4 separate regions of the Homo sapiens genome follow, and all the other regions are linked to region 1. The links come from fine-mapping of genetic effects on gene expression. A gene starts in region 1. Each other region holds a variant in brackets. All regions are shown on one strand. Distances are from middle to middle.

Region 1 (5,151 bases):
ATTCAGGAAGTGGAAACACAAAGAGTGACAAAAAAATCACCTTCATTGGCCCAACAATCTAAAAATTAAGAATTAATTACACCTCTCTCTTCCACTATTAAGGCCATCAGCCACCCCCATCACCACCGCCCTGGGGTGGGAGGGTGACCTGAAGCTGCACCAGCACTATCAGCACAATAGAGCATTCAGTCACTGATGACTTTCGACCCAAGCCTGCGTGCACAGTCTCTTTGCGAGTGGCTATTTTGGCAACTTCATTCCAAGCCTAACCAATCAACTTCTGAATAAACACCGGCAACACCAATTGTCTTTCAACGGATGATGGCTATAGGATAGGGTGTACTTATATTGAGGGAAGAATAAGCAAGGAACACGACCATTTCCCAGCTCCTTTCTGTTTGAGGGGTGGAGTGTTGAGGATTACGGACGTGACATAGATTTTTAAAAGGTCAGATTAGTGGTTCTGTGAGGATCTGTCCCATTTAAGCCCTACCTAACCTTTAAGTAAAACAACTTTACATACTGCGCTCCCTAAGAAAAAACTTTGGAAAGGCTTCTTTTGAACTACATTAATTACAAAATCAACAGCTGCCCAGGGTGAGACGCTGATCATTGCAACTGTTCCTTCTATCCCCTGAACATACAATTGTCTAATGTAGAGACATAGACATCAAGGTAAAGCTTTTAAAAAATCATTATTCCATGTCCCTGCTCCCTGATAGCACATAAGCAACTACTTTTATCAATGTGGCATAGCAACTACTGATTACTAATCAAAAAGCAGTCTATGTTCCTTAAACACAGGCTTCCCATGGTTCTCCAGTTCACGCACAATAATATTTCTCTACAAGTTACATATATTCTTCTCTGTTGACCTATGGAAAACTAATCTACAAAATAGGAATATATTAACACAGTTTCTTATGTACATGAATATATATAGATATGATACATATGCAACAAAAAACCCAAGTAAATATAACTATCATCCTCAATTTAACAGAATTGTTAAAAACTTGGAATTTTCTACAATCAAGCTATAACATTTATTGACCTTCCTATGGGTTAAAGAAAAAGATGCTTATTTAGAGGCTTAATTATAGACCTACACAAAAATAAATACCCTTATAATTTATCTCTCATTCTAGTTTTCAACTTTTTAATCTAAGTTCATAATTACCGTTTCTCTAAGTGCACAATTGTTGTAAATATAGCCTTTACTCTCAACAGCTTTTGCCAGCTAATAAGAGATTCAGATAGGATTAAAGAAGATTAGCAAAGAGGGCAAATGAAGGGTAAAACAAGCGTCTGCCAAAAACTGAAGAGATAAGGCTTGGATGTCTTCAACGTGGCTTTCTAGAACATATTATGTCACTCCGAGGCTGGCTTAACGCTTCTAATACACAACAAAAGAGTAATTAACGTTTTAAAAGTCACCAAACTCTTTAAAAAGCAACGCAGGAAAAAAAGATCCCAAACTAACCAAGTCGAAGTTTTACAGAAATTAAATGAGCTATTACAATGGGAAAACAAAGACTGTATCTTAAAATATAAAAGCACAGTTCTCTGTGCTCATATTCACAAATTATTTCAAAGCTTATACACAAAAAAAGTCCACCCCGACGAAGAGATTAAACGTCCTGCCCGGTGCCTGCAGTGGAAGCAGGCGGTGGCGCGGTTGGGGGAACTTTCTCCCTCCCGGTCAAGCCTCGGGAATTGAAGGGCCGGGGAGGCGGGGCCCGATCGAAAAGCTGGAAAGTCACTTTTGTTTTCACCATTATTTCACTTAATGGGTTGTGTTTCTGAATAAATAAAGTCAGATAACTTTGGCTTCCCTCTTTGAGAATTCCGTTATCATTAGAACAAATGTCTGTTTCTTTTAAACGATTATCTAACCACATTTGCATACAGCTCTTTCCTTGTAGGATTGAGATTACTAACCACTAAAAACCAGTTTTATTGCTCTCGACACCGCACTCTCGACCTGTCCCTAAATTAAAACGGATTACTTGCAGAAAAGGGACAGTTTTCGTCACACACTTTCTGATCCGACTCTGCAAACCAGGGCTCTTAAAAGGCTCCAGGGACCGCGTGGTGGAAGGAGGGGGCGTCCCCGGGCGCCGGGAGTCCGGCGCCGTTGGGGGGGACGGGGGTGTGCGGAATTCCACTTTCACCTGAGCGTCCTTTGGGATGCACCAGCGAGGGCTGGAGTCGGACCTAATTCCTGTTTTTCTCCCTCCTTTTAGATTTTGCAACAGTTCTGAACTCAGTTCCGCTGCCTCCCTGAGACCCAATCCTGCCTCTCTGTCCTAAAAACAGTTTCCACCGCCAGCCCAAGCAGCAGGGGAGCAGAGGTGGGAGATCCCGGAGGAGAGTTTAGGGGCGGGGGTCTCAGGCTAAGGGACGCCCGGCCGTCATCCTCCCACGCCAGGCCGGCCCCCGCGGTCCAGGAGGCGGGAAAGTGGTCAAGAGGTCTGGGAGACACCGACCGCCTTCCCTCGGGCTGACCACTCCCGCCCGCTCCGCCCCTCCGGGGACCCTCCTCCCTCCAGTCCTTCCCCTACCGGCGTCAGGGACCGGTCTCCGGGCGGAGATTGGCCCTGGTAGCACAGGGCGCCGAGGGGACATGCCCGGCCAGCCTCGCAGGTCGGGCTCCGGCTGGGTCGGACAGAGGGTGGTGGCCCTGCAGCCCGCTGGGGATTACCTGTCCGCGCCTGCTGCTTACCTCGTTCGCTCCCTTGTGAAGCTCCGGCGTCTTGTGTGTTTCATCTCCTAGGAAACGGCGGGGGCAGCAGGCGGGCCTACGGCCGGCCCAGAGAGGGCGTGGCCTCGCGGGAAATCCCCGCCAATTCCCGCAGGCCCCGCCTTCCCCGGGGCGGGGCTTCATGGAGCCGGGGGACTGTCGGCTGAGCTGCAGCAAGTGTGCCATTTAGACTTGGGGTTTAGGGGAGTTGATTACCTTTTCAGTCAGGTCTTTGTCAGAAGTTGGTTTGTTTGCCCTTTATTTTGTTTTGGTTTTGTTCCGATTCATTCTACAAAGTCTTGATTAATTAAAATATGGTTCCCAGACCGGGCAGAGCAAGAGAAGGAAGTCTGTTTGCCTCATACTTGCACTTGTTTACTTGTGCCTGGGGAAAAACTGTTCTTGTATGCAGTTCCTTAAATTGGTCAATTCCTTGGGTATGTATTACCTCTTGAGCTGCCCTTCTAAGTTTGTTTCCATTTATTCATTCAGAGAACCTGCCTAGTATCAGCCACAGAGTTAGATAGTGGTAATTCCAAGAAAAATGACTGAATGTGTGAATAAATGGGTAAATTGTAACTAGTCTAGAATTTAGAGAGGAAGGCACACTTGTGTTACTGCAAATAGTTCAGATTGGCTGGCAAAAAGGGTCTACGAAACAGAAACATAAGTGATGAAGCAGTGGTGCGGCAAGTTAGTAATTATTAGGTGTCAGGATGTGGGCTTGGGACCAAGAATAGCGCCAAGGTAGACACGACAGACATGCCTGTGGCCCTCACAGCTTAAAGTGAAGTAGGCTTTCACGCGTATGTTTATGGCAGCACAATTCACAATTGCAAAGATGTGGAACCAATCTAAGTGCCCATTGACTAATGAGTGGATAAAGAAAATGTGGTATATATACACCATAGGCTGCTACTCAGTCACAAAAAAAGAATGAAATAATGTCTTTTGCAACAACTTGGAAGAGTGGGAGGTCCTTATTCTACGCAAAGTAATACAGGCGTGGAAAACCAAAAACTGTATGTTCTCACTTATAAGCAAAAGCCAAGCTATGAGTATGCAAAGGCATACACAGTGAAATAATGGACTTTGGAGACTCAGAAAGGGGAGGATGGGAGAGAGCCTAGGGATAAAAAAAACTATGCACTAGGTACCATATACACTACTCAGATGATGGGTGCACTAAAATCTCAGAATTCACCACTATATAATTCATCTATGTAACAAAAAACCACTTGTACCCCAAGAGCTATTGAAATAAACATTTAAAAACAGACGGGGCTCAGTGGCTCATGCCTGTAATCCCAGCACTTTGGGAGGCCCAGGTGAGTGGCTCACCTGAGGTCAGGAGTTCAAGACCAGCCTGGCCAACATGGTGAAACCCCATCTCTACTAAAAATACAAAAAATATCTGGGTGTGGTGGCACATGCCTGTAATCCCAGCTACTCGGGAGGCTGAGGCAGGAGAATCACTTGAACCCAGGAGGCAGAGGTTGCAGTGAGCGGAGAACGTGCCACTGCACTCCAGCCTGGGTGACTGAGCAAGACTCTGTCTCAAAATAATAATAATAATAAATGGCCAGGCGCGGTGGCTCATGCCTGTAATCCCAGCACTTTGGGAGGCCGAGGTGGGCGGATCACCTGAGGTCGGGAGTTTGAGACCAGTCTGACCAACCTGGAGAAACCCCATCTCTACTAAAATGCTAAAACTACAAAAAATTAGCCAGGCGTGGTGGCGCATGCCTGTAATCCCAGCTACTTGGGAGGCTGAGGTAGGAGAATAGCTTGAACCCAGGAGGCGGAGGTTGCAGTGAGCTGAGATCACACCATTGCACTCCAGCCTGGGCAGCAAAAGCAAAACTCCGTCTCAATAATAATAATAATAAATAAAAGATTCATTGCTCTCCAATAAATAAGTGAAGTAGGCAGGCAAAGTAAAAAGCATAAGTTAGATAGGTCATAGCAGCTTTATATACCCAGTTATGAAGCCTAAGCTTTAACATGTGTCAATGAGGAAGACCAGTGAAGAATCTCCCACAGAAGAGTGACATGTTCACATTTGCATTTCAGAAAGATCCCAAGAGGAGCAGTGGGTAGGGTGGATTTGAGCTGCAAGTCTGGAGGCAAGAGAAAGATTGGGAGTCTTTCTCCCAACTGACTGGGAAGAAATGATAAGGATCCAACTCTAGCAGTGATGATGGAAATAGGACAGAGAAAGACAGAATTCAAGGGATGTTTAGGAGTTAAAATCGGCAGGACCATCAGGCTTAGATGACTGGTGGATAGTGGTATCCATGACCAAGTTGGAAAATAATAGAGGAGGAGCTGATTTAGGGATGGAGGATGTGAGAGATAACAAGCCCAGTTTTGAAATTTTTGAATTGAGAAAAATCCTTATGCAGATT
Region 2 (5,151 bases), 72 kb before region 1:
AGCCATTGGGCTTGATTGTCACCTTGAATTCATGGGAACTGTACTGGTCAAGATCAAAACACAAGCCGTCCACTAAAATCAAGTGGCATAACTTTGATATTCTCTATGTTAAAGATAAATTTATTTCTAAAAAAAAAAAAAAAAAGCTGGGCACTGTGGCTCACACCTGTAAGCCCTGCACTTTGGGAGGCCGAGGCAGGTGGATCACCTGAGGTCAGGAGTTTGAGACCAGCCTGAGCCTGACCAACATGGTGAAACCCTGTCTCTACTAATACTACAAAAATTAGCCAGGCATGGTGGCACACGCCTCTAATCCCAGCTACTCGGGAGGCTGAGGCAGGAGAATCACTTGAACCCAGGAGGTGGAGGTTGCAGTAAGCCAAGATAGTGCCACTGCACTCCAGCCTGGACACAAGAGTGAAACATCGCCTCAAAAAAAAAAAAAAAGATATCCTGCTCAAGATTGAAATTACCATCGCTCCCATAGCTTCAAAGTAGAAAAACAAATAATTGCAATCTTTCTGTCATTGACAAAATGGCAGCGCAGAGCCTTAGTCAAATAAGAACCACAGCTGACAGCCAGCAAAGGTTGGCCCAACTGCTGTACAAAAACAAAAGACAAACCTCTTAAGCCAACCACAGCAAAGTGAAGAACTACTAAACCATTTGGGCACATACAACAAATGAAAACTAAAACACTCTAAACATTTTCTGGAAGTTGTTTTTTTTTAAGGGTTCTTATTGGATTTACTATTTATTAAATTGTAGATCAAATACTTCATACTTTGGCAAATAGTTTATTCAATACTTTGTAACATCCTACCCATATATCAACACTGTGGGCAATGATGCTAAGAAAATGCATTTCTTGGAAATAAGTAAAATAGGGGATGATTTTTGCCCTTCCAAGTACCCACTTTTGCATATTTCTTCCAGAACTCAGTAGAAATAGACATTTGTAGACATTTCCCAGGGTCAAGGAACTTGCACGTACTCTACGGAGCAATGCTGTAGGGTTTCACACCATAGACTCCTACCGGTGGCCTCCATACTTGGCCACCCAGTCTGTCCTCCCATGCACTGAGGGAATGGGCTGTGCACGGTTCACAATATTTAGGTTTTTTGCTGTAGGATTATAAGTACGTCCTGAAAACTGCCCCCGACCAGTTTTTGTGTTCCAGGTATATTCTGAAAGAAATCAGATTTGGAAAACAGGGTTTTACTCATTTGCTTATCAAACTCAAAATAAAGAAATTCATCCTCTCATTTGATGGGGAAAATCTGAATTTATGTTTAAAAGATTAACTCAGTACTCTCTGAGGCTTTTTAAATGTTAAAACCAAAAATTCTAGTGTAGTATTATGTTGACATCCATTAGAATTTCCAGTAGCTGGCCGGGCGCAGTGGCTCCTGCCTGTAGTCCTAGCACTTTGGGAGGCTGAAGCAAGTGGATCACCTGAGGTCAGGAGTTCGAGACCAGCCTGGCCAACATGGTGAAACCCTGTCTCTACTAAAAATACAAAAAAAATCAGCTGAGCGTGGTGGCGGGTGACTGTAATCCCAGCTACTCAGGAGGCTGAGGCAAGAGAATCACTTGAACCCGGGAGGCAGTGGTTGCAGTGAGCCGAGATCATACCATTGCACACCAGCCTGGGCGACAAGAGTGAAACTCCATCTCAAAAAAAAAAAAAAAGAATTTTCAGTAGCTGAAGAGCCAATATTATTCCTGGTTTATAGTGCTGACACTGCTGCTATTTTTAATATTTTACATTTAGATAGGCAACGCCAGGTAAGAAGACCAAGAAAATTTATTGGCTCAAATTCAATGGGCAACACCCACAGTGTTGGTGACTTTGTAATATCACACTGTGGTTACATCTAAATAATATTGACACAATATCACTACAGAAAAATGTATTTGGAATTGTGAATCTATAAAACTGTGGCTTCATGGAAGAACACACATGGGGTCCTATAATAGATTTCTTTTTAAACATTAAAATGTGGGTTTTAGAATGAAGATTTTTTTTTTTTTTTTTTTTTTTTTTTTTTTTTAATGAGGCAGAGTTTCGCCCTTGTTGCCCAGGCTGGAGTGCAATGGTGCGATCTCGGCTCACTGCAACCTCCACCTCCCGGGTTCAAGTGATTCTCTTGCCTCAGCCTTCTGAGCAGCTGGGATTACAGGGGCGCACCACCACGCCCAGCTAGTTTTTGTATTTTTAGTAGAGATGGGGTTTTGCCATGTTGGCCAGGCTGGTCTGGAACTCCTGACCTAAGGTGATCCACCCACCTCAGCCTTGCCAATGATCCACCCACCTCAGCCTCCCAAAGTGCTAGGATTACAGGTGTGAGCCATCGCACCCGGCCCATACTTCATTTCTCATTGGGAAAATCATGGGTGGGAACACAATTCCCTTAAATGGTAGGATCCTAAACTTTTAACCACAAGGTTGTTTCATTCATATATCTGACTGTTTAAAAATTTGTGAAAAATTTAAAATTTCTTGAACATTTGTTATCTGAACAATTTATGAGCTAAAACTGCTTCAACATTTCAAAGGACAAAGCAGGAG[A/T]TCATTTTACAGACAACTTTTGATGCCTTCTTCAGTCCCTCCTTCACGCTTTCCTCACCTCGAATTGAGAGCTAAGGTATCACAGGTATTGTATCTGAGGAGGGATGTCTGCTTTTTCCATCTGGGGTTTAAATATCTCTTCACACTGTGTAGTAGCTGCCATTCTTGGATTAAACTCTAAGTGTTAATACTGAAATGAATCTGACCATTTTGTACCCCTAGCCCTAGCTATCCCATATTTACTGGCATGGTTTGCACAGTTTTTCTTAAATTTTCACTGTATAACTGGGAGTGAGGAGGGAATTCTGTGAGCATGTGGTCCTGACAAGCTACTAACTTCAGCATGGGTGAACAAGGTATTAAGTGTGGACACTCTGGGTAAGACAGCCGCCTGGCTGCCGTGTAGTTTGGTGGAGGCAGGGAGGCCAAGAGCTCCCCACTCCATGGTTTGACAGGTCCTTTCATTCCACTCTTTTTACTGGGCTTAAAATTCTCAAAGTCAAAGCCACTAAAAAGCTATCTAACAAAGTCAGGGACAATGTGTCTACAAGGGCCAGTCAGGGCACCATGTTTTCCAGAAAGAGCCCTTTAGTTATAGCCATTGGAATAGAAACGAGCATCTGTCTGCTAAATTAGTGAGCTCACCCATGTGGGCCACAGGTCAAACTGGTAGCAGGGGTAGAAGAGACAGCGTGGGAGGGGAGTAGAGAGCGGGGAGAGAGGCAATAAGCCCCGCTTATTCAGGGAGGGAAAAGGGAACGTGGCATTAGGCTAATGGGTGTGGCTCTGAGGGCAAGAAGTGAGAGCTTTGGGGAGTAACAAAAAGAGAAGCCTTTTTCCAGGTCATGATATCACCTAAGTCCTAAATGGTTTTAAATGAAATTGTGTCCAGGACAATATTTTGTAAAACTTTTTCAAGAGGGAATCATTTTGCTAAGAAGGGGGTAGTGTTGAGATTTAGGATTCCTTTCCTAGATATACTAGAATTTCAGGACTCAAGTACCTTTGGTGAAGAACCTAACAGCTGAGAGGAGCCCAGATCTCGTGGCAGGGCAAGAAGTGCTTTTGTGCCTTAGTGGGACCACCCCACACCTCACTGCCCTGCAAGAGCGGGAGGGATAGTGAGCCTTGCAATGCTTGCTCTGTGTTTAAAAACTGCATCTGTCCTATCAAGGACATTTAACTTCTTGTAGAAAATCTATGCTAAAGGAAAGAAGTTTGCCTCTAGTTATGGATTTAATTGATGCCACTGTGATACAACTTTTAGCAACATATAAAACTTGTGTGAGATGCGGATCATAATAGTACCTCCTGGAATACAGCCCTGGGAGGATTAATGAGTTAATGTACACAGAGTGCTTAAAACAGGATCCTGCACTTCTAAAGTGATCCTAAAGGGTGCTGTGTAGAACAGAAGTCACTCCTCGAAGTCCTTGTTAGTTTCAAGGCAGGGGATAAGGAAGTATTAGGGGAAGGAGAGATTACATGGGAGGGAAGACATTGATTTTCCTTCTCAAAACTTAAAGGGTAGAGGCCAGGTGCGGTGGCTCATGCCTGTAATCCCAGCACTTTGAGAGGTCGAGGCAGGCAGATCACGAGGTCAAGAGATCGAGATCATCCTGCCCCATCTCTACTAAAAATACATAAATTAGCTGGGCGTGGTGGCACGCACCTGTAGTCCCAGCTACTCCGGAGGCTGAGGCAGGAGAATCGCTTGAACCCGGGTGGCAGAGGTTGCAGCAGGGAGCTGAGATCACGCCACTGCACTCCAGGCTGGTGACAGAGCGAGACTTTGTCTCAAAAAAAAAAAAAAAAAAAAACAAAAACAAAAATCTTGAAGGGGAGAAAGAAGAGCAAAGACGAGACTATGCAAGAAGGGGGAAATAGTTGAGTAAATATGGTAATGACCTGGTTTTATTTTCTTGTGGGAAACTGTCACCCAACTGGCATGACTGGAAGACACATCTCTTACAGAACAGTGTTTTTTCTAAGGATTTGCATTGACCACTTGAGAGTGATTAATATTTACTTCATTTTTTACCTTTCCTCCTATCACCATCTGTAGAAAAATCTGATAAGCAGAGTAAAGAAATAAAAAGTTAAGAAAAAGCATTTACTTAAAAAAAATGAAAACAGGAATATGCATGCTAATTGGATAGAATAATTAATATATAAAGGCCTTCAATATCTTACAAAAATATTTTTTAAAAGACCCACTCTTGATTTATAAGAGTAGATACCTAGGTAACAAAATAATTTGAAACATTATGATTTTCTGCCTTTATATTAAAAATATAAAATGTGGCCGGGTGCAGTGGTTCATGCCTGTAATCCCAGCACTTGTGGGAGGCTGAGGCAGGTGAATCATTTGAGGTCACGAGTTCAAGACCAGCCTGACCAACACAGTGAAACTGCGTCTCTACTAAAAATACAAAAAAAATTAGCTGGGCATGGTGGTGCATGCCTGTAATCCCAGCTGCTTGGGAGGCTGAGGCAGGAGAATCGTTTGAACCCGGGAGGTGGAGGTTGCAGTGAGCTGAGATCACACCACTGCACTCCAGCCTGGGCAACAGAGCAA
Region 3 (5,151 bases), 85 kb before region 1:
AGAGAAAACGCCACACTTTGAGACGAATTAAGAGTCTGTTTATTTAGCTGGGGCCTAAAAGACGGCTAACACTCAAAGTTCTCTCGGCCTTGAAGAAGGGGCTAGATTTTCTTTTATACTTTGGTTTAGAATGGGGTGGGGGGGGGGTCTAGTTAAAACAATTTTACTGAAGTAAAGTAGGCAAAAAAGTTAAAAGGATAAATGGTTACAGGAAAGTAAACAGTTCCAGGTGCAGGGGCTTTAAGACTATTACAAGGTGATGGACGCGGGGCTTTGGGCATTATCAATCGGACGAATTCCTGGGAACTGCGGATATAGCTCGCCACAGTATCTTATCAGTTAATTGCATTCTTGGATGTGCTGGGAGTCAGCTTGCACAAGTTAAGTCCTTGAGGACGGGGCTGCCAGTGAAAGAGCCAAGATGGAGTCTGTCTGGCTCTCTTAGCTAAGGAAGAGTCAATTCAGGTGGAAACAAGGCTAGGTGATTAAAGGAAAGGGAGAGTCTAAAAACAGGGTTAGTAAAAACAAGGTTAGGCATTACAAAAGAAGGCCTAGTCATAGTTCTGTCTAAGGAGGGAAGATGGCCTTCTTTCCTTTCCTTAGATGGAAGTGCCCTGCCTATTAGAGGAGAGAAAAATGGGGTGGGAAGACCCTGACTTCTCTGAGAAGATAGCACACTCTCCTTAACGCCTTCCTGCTTGAGTCCACCTTGGCTGTGAGCTGTGTTGAGAGTTCTTTGTGCTGTCCTTTGTAGGGCAGGAGGTCTGGTGGATTCCGTTAGTGAAATAAGTGCCTGACATTACAATGCAAGCTGCGTTTGCTTCCTTCTAGGCAGCGTGCCGTCCCTGGCTGCAGGGCTGCTCTTCGGCAGTCTAGCCGGCCTGGGTGCTTACCAGCTGTATCAGGATCCAAGGAACGTTTGGGGTTTCCTAGGTATGTCTGCTTCAGCGTCTCCTTAGGGCAATCATGTATCTGGAATATTCTTTTCCAAAAGACCCTGGTTTGGTGGGATGGAGCGAGTTCTTCCCACTTAATTTACGACAGTTTCACTGCTTCTCCAAGTCCAAGTCCTCAAAGTTTTAAAATAGGAGAAGGGTGGTGGGAATTGTCCTGGTTCCTGTTTATTGTTTATGTAGATAATATGGAAAGATTTCCATACCTTGTGAATTGTGTGACTCTCAGAAAGTCATCCATCCTCTGTGGGCCTTATTTTCAGTGTTTACCCAGTAGAATTAGTATCAAACTTGTATTACCCATATTTACCCAGTAAAGTCAGCATTAAACTTGTATAAGACAAATATGTGTCAACCGTTGAGGTTTTCCGCTGAAGACCATTGGCCTCAGTATCACTAAAATATCACGTATCTGGGTTAGGTTTGCAGCTGCGTTACGTTTTTCACATTTGAAAATCACCTCTTTAGCAGTCAGCTAACTAAATATATAAGACGTAGACCATGCTTTCAAGGAGCTTTCAACTGACTTCACTGGGGAAGTAAGACATGAGCATAGAAGCAGGACTGGAAAGGTACCCTGTGAGCAGCACGGACAGTGAGGACAGTGAGTGGTGTGGAGGACATAAGAGTCCTCATCAGAGTGGTTTTCAGTACATTTCTGTGGAGCTCCACCCATGTGTCAGACACTGCTATGAGTGTGGGTTCCTTGCGGTCTCTACAAACCCCGTGTGAGAATGAGTGCCATGTGGGAGGGAGAAGCCGTGTGATCTGTACATATCAGCTGGGGTGGGGAAGGGAGGTCCGTGATGGCTAATGGGGTGTGCTGGGGAAGGAGGTGTGTCCAGGTCCCAGCTCTGCCTAACAGCTCCCTCCCTCATGCTCCAGAATGACTTGAGCCTGCATTTTCCCTTTCTCTGATCCTACTCCACTCAGCAAATGACCTCACACCTATTGTAGAGAAAAAACAGCAGCCATCAGGTGGGGACTCCTGGAGCCTTTAATCTCCAAGCCTCCCCTCGTCCTGTTTCCCTCCTTTCCAACACCAGTGTCTTCCTCTGGGCTTTGGGTGTCTTCTCCCTGACCGTCTCCAGACCTTTACACTGGCCAGGATCCTGTCTTGTATTTGTATTCCTCCTTTTAGGTGGATCCCCGCATTGATATTCAGATGTGCTTGTCTCCTTCCCCTTCATAAACTACCTTTTTTTTTTTTTTTTTTTTTTGAGACGGAGTCTCACTGTGTTGCCCAGGCTAGAGTGCAGTGGCGCGGTCTTGGCTCACTGCAACCTCCGCCTCTTGGATTCAAGTGGTTCTCCTGCCTCAGCCTTCTAGGTAGTTGGGATTACAGGTGTCTCCCACCATGTCAGGCTAACGTTTGCATTTTTAGCAGGTGCAGGGTTTTTGCCATGTTGTCTGGGCTGGTTTGGAACGCCTGACCTCAGGTGATCTGCCCACCTTGGACTCCCGAAGTGCTGGGATTACAGCCATGAGGCAGCACGCCCAGCCAAGAGGGAAAGAGGGAGGGAGTGGGAGGCCAAAAGCCTACAGCACCT[G/C]GTGTTTCCCCGAAGGTGGGGTGGTAGTCTCCCATCCAAGTACCATGCAGGACCGGACCGACCCTGCTTTGCTTCTGGGATCAGACAAGATCTAGCACATTCAGGGTGGTATGGCGGTAGACCACAAACTTCTTAAAGATCATTTATGCAGCTGGGCGCGGTGGCTCACTCGTATAATCCCAGCACTTTGGGAGACCGAGGCAGGCGGCTCACCTGAGGTCGGGAGTTGGAGACCAGTCTGACCAACTTGGAGAAAGCCCCATCTCTACTAAAAATACAAAATTAGCCGGGCTTGGTGGCTGTCACCTGTAATCCCAGCCACTCAGGAGGTTGAGGCAGGAGAATCGCTTGAACCCGGGAAGTGGAGGTCGCGGTGAGCCGAGATGACGCCACTGCACTCCAGCCTGGGCAACAAGAGCGAAACTCCGTTTCAAAAAATAAAGATCATTTATGCCTCCTCTCCCATCACACATGATCAGCCCATTTCAGTCTCTGTTTCTGTCCCTGTGTTTGTGGAATAGCTCTCCCTGAGGCTGCCAGTGACCTGTGTTTGTACAAAATCCAATGTACATTTTTCAGTCCTCATTTTACTTGGCCATTTAGCAGTTCTCAGCACGGTTGACCAATCATTTTCCATTCTCCTGGTTTCCCTTTTTATCCTCTCATTCTCTTTTGGCAACCTATTTTCCTTTTTGGCCACTAGATATTGAAGTTCTTCAGGCTCTTCTTGTCTACTCACTTGACAGTTTCATTGAAGCCTATGCCTTTAATTTCCACCGATACACAAATGACACAAATTTCTCTCTCCTCCAGGCTGGACTCTCATGTATTCATCTGTCCACTTTCCTTCAGATGTCTCCAGGAATCTGCCCGGACCTAACCTCATGGCCACACACTCCCCCTGTCTTCTGTTCTCCATCCATTCGGTTCTTGATTGCTCTCTTTCCTTTCTACCACCCCCTTTCTGACTAATTCATCAGCAGGTCTTGTCGACACTACCTCTAGCCCTTATCCTGAGTTGTCCTCTTTTTCATCTGCACAGCCATCGTCCTAGTCCCAGTTATCCCCTCTTTCTTACCTGCATTCCCAAGGACGTTCCTTAGCTGGTATCCCCATGTACCCTCTAGTTTCCCTGAAGTTTGTTCTCTATAGTATAGCTAGAATTACGCTTTCAAAATGCAACTCTGGGCCGGTTGCGGTGGCTCCTGCCTGTAGTCCTAGCACTTTGGGAGGCCAAGGCAGGCGGATTGCCGAGCTCAGGAGTTGGAGACCACCCTGGGCAACATGGTGAAACCCGGTCTCCACTAAAATTAAAAAAGGCTTCAGCATTGCTTGAACCTGGGAGGTAGAGGTTGTAGTGAGCTGAGATCATGCCACTGCACTCCAGCGTGTGTTGCAGAGTGAGACTCTGTCTCAAAAAATAATAATAATAATGCAACTCTTTTTATGCATCCCTCTGCTTAGTATCCTTTAATAGCTTCTCATTGCTCTTATGATGAAAACCCAATCCTTAGTATGGCCTTCAAGGCTCTATGTGGTCTGGCGCCTCTTACTCACAAACTGCATCTTGACTTCTGTGCCACGCTGCCCTTTTAGGGTGAATGTGCCATGCTCCCTGTCACCACAGGGCCTCTGCATATACTGTCCCCTCTGCCTGGAAAGGGCATTCCCATCCTTCAGCTTATTAACGCCTGCTGTAATTTCAGATCTCAGTCAGTCTTCACTTCCTTGGCTAAAAGCCTAGCATGATCTCCCTGAATAGGTTGATCCCCCTGTTGAGCTTTTTTGTGTAGCATCAATTATACCTGAAGCACACATTGTACCTTGTTTTTCTTTGTGTGATTGTTTAAAGTCTTGTCCCATCAGACCTGAAGCATTGTAAAAGGGCAAAGACAGTTACGATTACTTTTGTATTCTCCAGCTCCTAGCACAGCGCTTGACATGTAGTAGGTGCTTTGACAGATACCCAGTGGGAATTGCATGCAGGGTAGAGGAAATAGCGTCTGCAGGGCGATAGCATCTGCAGGGCATGAGAAACAACAGCATTTTGGAGAAAACTAACACATTGATGGCTAAAGTGTGGGTTTTGCAGAAGACAAGTGGTAAGAGATGAGGCTGGAAGGGCAGGTAGGGCCCAGGCTGTGAAGGGCCCTATTTGGCCAGTATTGGTATTTGGACCCATAGGATGTGGGCAGCTAGTAATCTCCCCTACTTGGGGAAGGAGGAATAAGCATAGGATGAGGCGTGAGCCTTGAGAGATTGGTGGGGCTTGGTCTACTTCTGATTCCCCTGCGTAGAAGACTAATGAGTTTTGACCCTTCTTTGTATCTTTTTCAGCCGCTACATCTGTTACTTTTGTTGGTGTTATGGGAATGAGATCCTACTACTATGGAAAATTCATGCCTGTAGGTTTAATTGCAGGTGCCAGGTACTTTCATTCTATTACTCTTCTTTACCATGTAGAGTTCAGTTTATTGCCCAGAATACTTTATGCATTCAAAACCTTACTTGTTTCAGAGTATCTGATGCTATGCATCAACTGACGTTTGACTTATACACTAATAGGAGATGCTTCAAAAACAATAGTTGATTTAATGTCAAATGACATGAGTATATCCATTCACTGTGGAGATGGCTTTGTTCTCTGG
Region 4 (5,151 bases), 100 kb before region 1:
GGCGGAGATTGCAGTGAGCCGAGATCGCACTGCACTCCAGCCTGGGAGACAGAGTGAGACTCCGTGTCAAAAAAAAAAAAAAAAAACAGATGGTTTACCAAGGAATATCTTTGGAAATCCCCGTGAACATGTGCAAAGGAATCTGTAGGTTACATTCCTAAACGCTGTGTCAGAGCATCTCAGCAGTTCAAGTTGTGATTGCCCTCAGAAGAAAATGCACCAATTTACCCTACTTCCAGTGGTGGCTAACTTTGTGGAATTGGACTTTTTAAAAATCTTTGACACATGAAGCTAGGAGTCTGCAAACTTTTTCTGTAAAGGGCCAGATATGAATATTTTAGGCTTCGCAGGCCATCTTTGTCCCAGCTGCTCATCTCTGCCTTTGTAGGATGAAAGCAGCCATAGCCAATAAGTAAATAAGCAAGGGTGACTGTTCCAATAAAACTGTACTTATGGGCCTTGAAATCTGGATTTCATATGATTTCTACATATTACAAAATAGTAATCTTATTTTTATTTTCTTCAACCATTTAAAAATGCAAAACCGTTCTTAGCTTGCTGTCTGCACAAAAACAGGCAATGGACTAGAATTAGCTCACTGACCATAGTCATGCCACCCCCGATCTACCCAAAAAATGTTATCTAATGGTTTCAGTGATTTAGTTATGAATTATTACATCTTTCATACATTTATTGACCAGTTATATTTTTTCTGTGAGCAGTCTTTCATCCCTTTTGTCCATGTTTTTGGTTTTTTTGTTTTTTAATTGAAAACATTGGATAGTCTGAGACTTTCTATGTAGTATAAAAATGTGTTCCCTATCATATGTATTGAAAATATTTTCCTCTCACTTGTTATTTGTGTCTCGATTTTGTTTATGTGTTTTTTTTGCCGTTGTACAGAAAGTAAACATTTATGAAATCAAATTTATTATATTTTCTTTATGGCTTTCAGATTGAAACCACTATTGCAATTTTTTTTTTTTTTTGAGACGGAGTCTTGCTCTGATGCCCAGGCAGGAGTGCAGTGGTGCCATCTCGGCTCACTGCAACCTCCGCCTCCCAGGTTCAAGCAATTCTTCTGCCTCAGCCTCCTGTGTAGCTGGGACTACAGGCACGTGTCACCACGCCTGGCTAATTTTTTGTATTTTTAGTAGAGATGGGGTTTCACCGTGTTAGCCAGGATGGTCTCGATCTCCTGACCTTGTGATCCGCCCCCCTCGGCCTCCCAAAGTGCTGAGATTACAGGTGCGAGCCACCCCGCCTGGCCAGCATTGCAAAATTATAACTGAGACAGTGAAAGAGATCTGACCTAACCAACGCCATCTTGCTTCTACCGTCCAAGCTGTCCTTGTTCATTCTGGTGTGGGCTGAACTAACTGTGGGAAGAACTTAGTTTATAGTTTATTTATTCAATTTTTTCTGAGTTGGAGTCTTGCTCCATTGCCCAGGCTGGAGTGCAGTGGCACGATCTCAGCTCACTGCAACCTCTGTGTCCTGGGTTCAAGGGATTCGCCTGCTTCAGCCTCCCAAGTAGCTGGGATTACAGGCGCATGCCACCATGCCTGGTTAATTTTGTATTTTTAATAAAGACGGGGGTTTCACCATGTTGGCCAGGCTTGTCTTGAACTCTTGACTTCAAGTGGTCCACTCGCCTCGGCCTCCCAAAGCGATGGGATTACAGGCGTGAGCCACCATACCTGGCCTGAAATTATCTTATTTTCTTCCAATGCTTTTATAGTTTTATCTTTTAGGTTTCTATTTTTAAAATTTATTAATTAACAAATAATTGTCCATATTATGGGGTACAATGTGATGTGATGTTTTAATCTCTGTATGTATTATAGAAAGATTCAATCAAGCTAAGCTGTCATATTACCAAATTACCATTTCTTGTGTGGTGAGAGCACTTCTATTTTTAATGCTACTTTAGAATTTATTTTTGTGTGTGATGGTGCAAATTAGGGATCTGATTATTTTCTCCAAAATATAGCCATTACCTTAATATTATTTATTGAAAAATGTTAATTCCTCATTGCTTTGGAATGCCACTTTTACCATGTGCTGAATTTCTGTATTTGGAATTGATTCTGGGTTTTCTAGCCTCTTCCAGGGATTTCTTTATTTTCTGTCCCAGTGCCAAATTGTATTAATTACTGTAGCTTTGTACCATATGCTGATATTTAGTCGGACAAGTCTGTCGTTGCTTTTCAGATTTTTCCTGACACAGTAACTTTACAAGCTAAATCTGGAATTAGCCTTTCTGCTTGTTTGTTTTTTTATTTTTTTTCCTTTTTTGTTAGAATTAGCCTTTTAATTTTTAAATTTTACTTGGGATTTTATTATGACACATTGATAGATAATGAAGGAGATTGAAAGCTTTAAAATATTTCCTCTTATCCAGGAACATTGTATGTTCCTTCATTTAATTCAGGTGTTTTGTTTGTTTGTTTGTTTGTTTTGAGACAGAGTCTTTGTCTGTTGCCCAGGCTGGAGTGCAGTGGCGTGATCTTGGCTCACTGCAACCTCCGCCTCCTGGGTTCAAGTGATTCTCCTCCCTCAGCCTCCCAAGTAGCTGGGATTACAGGCGTGCACCACCACAGCTAGCTAACTTTTGTATTTTTAGTAGAGACGGGGTTTCACCATGTTGGCCAGGCTGGTCTTAAACTCCCAACCTCAGGTGATCCACCTGCCTCAGCCTCCCAAAGTGCTGCGATTACAGGTGTGAGCCACTGCACCCAGACTTTTTTTTTTTTTTTTGAGACAGTGTCTCGCTCTGTCGCCCAGGCTAGAGTGCAGTGGCATGATCTCAGCTCACTGCAACTTCTGCCTCCCAGGTTCAAGCAATTGTCCTGCCTCAGCCTCCCAAATAGCTGGGATTACAGGAGCCTGCCACCACACCTGACTAATTTTTGTGTTTTTAGTAGAGGCAGCATTTCGCCATGTTGGCCAGGCTGGTCTTGAACTCCTGACCTCAGGTGATCTACCCACCTCAGCTGGCAAATGGATTACAGGCATGAGCCACCACACCCGGCAAGTTCAGGTTTTTTAAAAAATGTCCTAAAACAATATTTTAGAGCTTTATTCACATAGTACTTTACACTTTTAGTAAGATCGTGGATTATTTTATAGTTTTGTGGTATTTTGAATTTTTTGTATTTTATAGTATTTTATAGTTTT[G/A]TTATTATGAATGGGTACTTTTTCATGTATTTTCTAACTAGATATCAGTCTGAACAAAATGAATTCCTGACGTTAATATTGCTGCTTCTGTCACCTCACTCAAGCATATTACTTGCTTTCGGTTTTTATGAGCTACTTTTTATCTGATTCTATGGCTTTATGTTAAAGTTAGAAATAATAGGATGTTTACTATCACTGGCAACATTCAACATAGTTCTAGAGAAATTAGACAAAGCAATAAAAAAGATAATTTGAGAGGTATAAATTAATAGTAGAAAATAACTTAAACATTTTTAACAGCTGATAATTATCTATCTGGAAAATCCACGAGAAGCAACTAAAAACCGATTGGAACTAACAGAGATCTTTAAAGCAGCAAGAAACAAGATCAACACTGAAAACGAATAGCTTTCTATCAATAGCCATAATCCATTCTCTCCCATAATATTGCTAATGTCCAAGTCCAACCCTTTCTATCTTTTACCTGGTTATTTAAATAATCTTCTGCAAGGAATACTTCTTTTCATGCTATGGCCCTATAAGTCATTCTTTACCCAGCAGGCAGAGGCATAGCTCAAGTATAGACTTCTAGACTTAAAACTACTCAATGGTCCCTGACTACACTTACATTTCTCTTTTAGCTCTTATAACATCCTGTTCTTTTTCTTAATAGCACTCGTCACAATTTGCAAACATACATGTTTTTGTGTGTTTATTGAATATCTGCCTCTAGAATAAATGTTGTATAAAGGCAGGAAAAACAACACTTTTGTTACTACCATATATACTTAGAACACAGTAGGGAATTTAGTAAGTCTTTGCTGAATACATTGATCAAATCTACTGGGTGTTTTTTTTGTTTGTTTGTTTGTTTGTTTTGAGTCAGAGTCTTGCTCTGTTGCCCAGACTGGGGTGCAATGGCATGATCTCGGCTCACTGCAACCTCCATCTCTCAGGTTCAAGTGATTCTCGTGCCTCAGCCTCCCAAGTAGCTGAGATTACAGGCACCTGCCACCATGCCTGGCTAATTTTTGTATATTTAGTAGAGACGGGGTTTCACCATGTTGGCCAGGCTGGTCTTGAGCTCCTGACCTCAGGTAATCTGCCCACCTCAGCCTCCCAAAGTGCTGGGATTACAGGCATGAGCCACCGCGCCCGGCCAATGGTAAGTATTTGAATATCTAAACATAATTAAGCACAGAAAATGGATAGTAAAAATATGGTTTTATAATCTTACAGTATTCGCATCATAAACGTGGTCTCTCATTGACCAAAAACATAGTTAATGTGGCACATGACTATATATTGAGTGATTTCTATTGAATTCTGGACACATTTGTGTTATGTTATGAGACACTGGCTCTTATTTATTTTTTAAGACAGAGTCTCGGCCGGGCGCGGTGGCTCACGCCTGTAATCCCAGCACTTTGTGAGGCTGAGGCAAGCAGATCACGAGATCAGGAGATCAAGACCATCCTGGCTAACACAGTGAAACCCCGTCTCTACTAAAAATACAAAAAATTAGCCAGGCGTGGTGGCGGGCGCCTGTAGTCCCAGCTACTCCAGAGGCTGAGGCGAGAGAATGGCGTGAACCTGGGAGGCGGAGCTTGCAGTGAGCCAAGATCGTGCCACTGCACTCCAGCCTGGGCGACAGAGCGAGACTCCGTCTCAAAAATAAAAAATAAAAATAAAAATAAAAAGAGTCTCTATTTGTCTCCCAGTTTGGAGTGCAGCGGTGTGATCTCGGCACACTGCAACCTCCGCCTCCTGGGTTCAAGCGATTTTCGTGCCTCAGCCTCCCGAGTAACCGGAATTACAGGCGCACACCACCACGCCTAATTTTTGTATTTTTAGTAAAGACGAGGTTTCACCATGTTTACCAGGCTCGTTTCGAACCGACCTCAAGTGATCCGCCTGCCTCGCCGTCCCAAAGTGCTGGGATTACAGGCGTGAGCTCCGGCCTCTGGCTCT

Alleles and levels. Positions count from the first base shown, and alleles are read on the strand shown. Sizes are in standard deviations (SD) of each study's normalised expression. Not every link is listed here.
For the expression in monocytes after LPS of the gene that starts at base 2,762 in region 1, A is the low allele of the variant in region 2 and T is the other (large effect, 1.5 SD a copy in Fairfax 2014).

Evidence for each region. PIP is the estimated chance that this variant, and not a neighbour inherited with it, causes the effect.
Region 2: its variant is the best candidate, but not a certain one, in a credible set for the expression of MAK in monocytes after LPS (Fairfax 2014, PIP 0.84).
Region 3: its variant is the best candidate, but not a certain one, in a credible set for the expression of MAK in whole blood (INTERVAL, PIP 0.84).
Region 4: its variant is the best candidate, but not a certain one, in a credible set for the expression of MAK in whole blood (INTERVAL, PIP 0.74).

Annotation. Positions count from the first base shown.
Region 1 is chr6:10,835,778-10,840,928 of GRCh38, forward strand. It overlaps MAK (male germ cell associated kinase), which reads right to left and starts at 2,762. Exons shown (of 15, transcript NM_001242957.3): 1 at 2,726-2,762. RefSeq lists a silencer at 2,825-2,954 and enhancers at 3,175-3,234, 3,285-3,444.
Region 2 is chr6:10,763,419-10,768,569 of GRCh38, forward strand. MAK (male germ cell associated kinase) reads right to left here. Exons shown (of 15, transcript NM_001242957.3): 15 at 1-1,188. The coding sequence ends at 1,034. Among named protein-coding and RNA genes, the nearest start is that of TMEM14B, 18 kb to the left of the region's middle. The variant A/T (reference allele first, on the strand shown) is at 2,574.
Region 3 is chr6:10,750,302-10,755,452 of GRCh38, forward strand. TMEM14B (transmembrane protein 14B) reads left to right here. Exons shown (of 6, transcript NM_030969.5): 4 at 832-933; 5 at 4,841-4,931. It also overlaps the pseudogene RNA5SP203. Among named protein-coding and RNA genes, the nearest start is that of TMEM14B, 5.1 kb to the left of the region's middle. The variant G/C (reference allele first, on the strand shown) is at 2,504.
Region 4 is chr6:10,734,773-10,739,923 of GRCh38, forward strand. No RefSeq gene overlaps it. Among named protein-coding and RNA genes, the nearest start is that of TMEM14B-DT, 10 kb to the right of the region's middle. The variant G/A (reference allele first, on the strand shown) is at 3,181.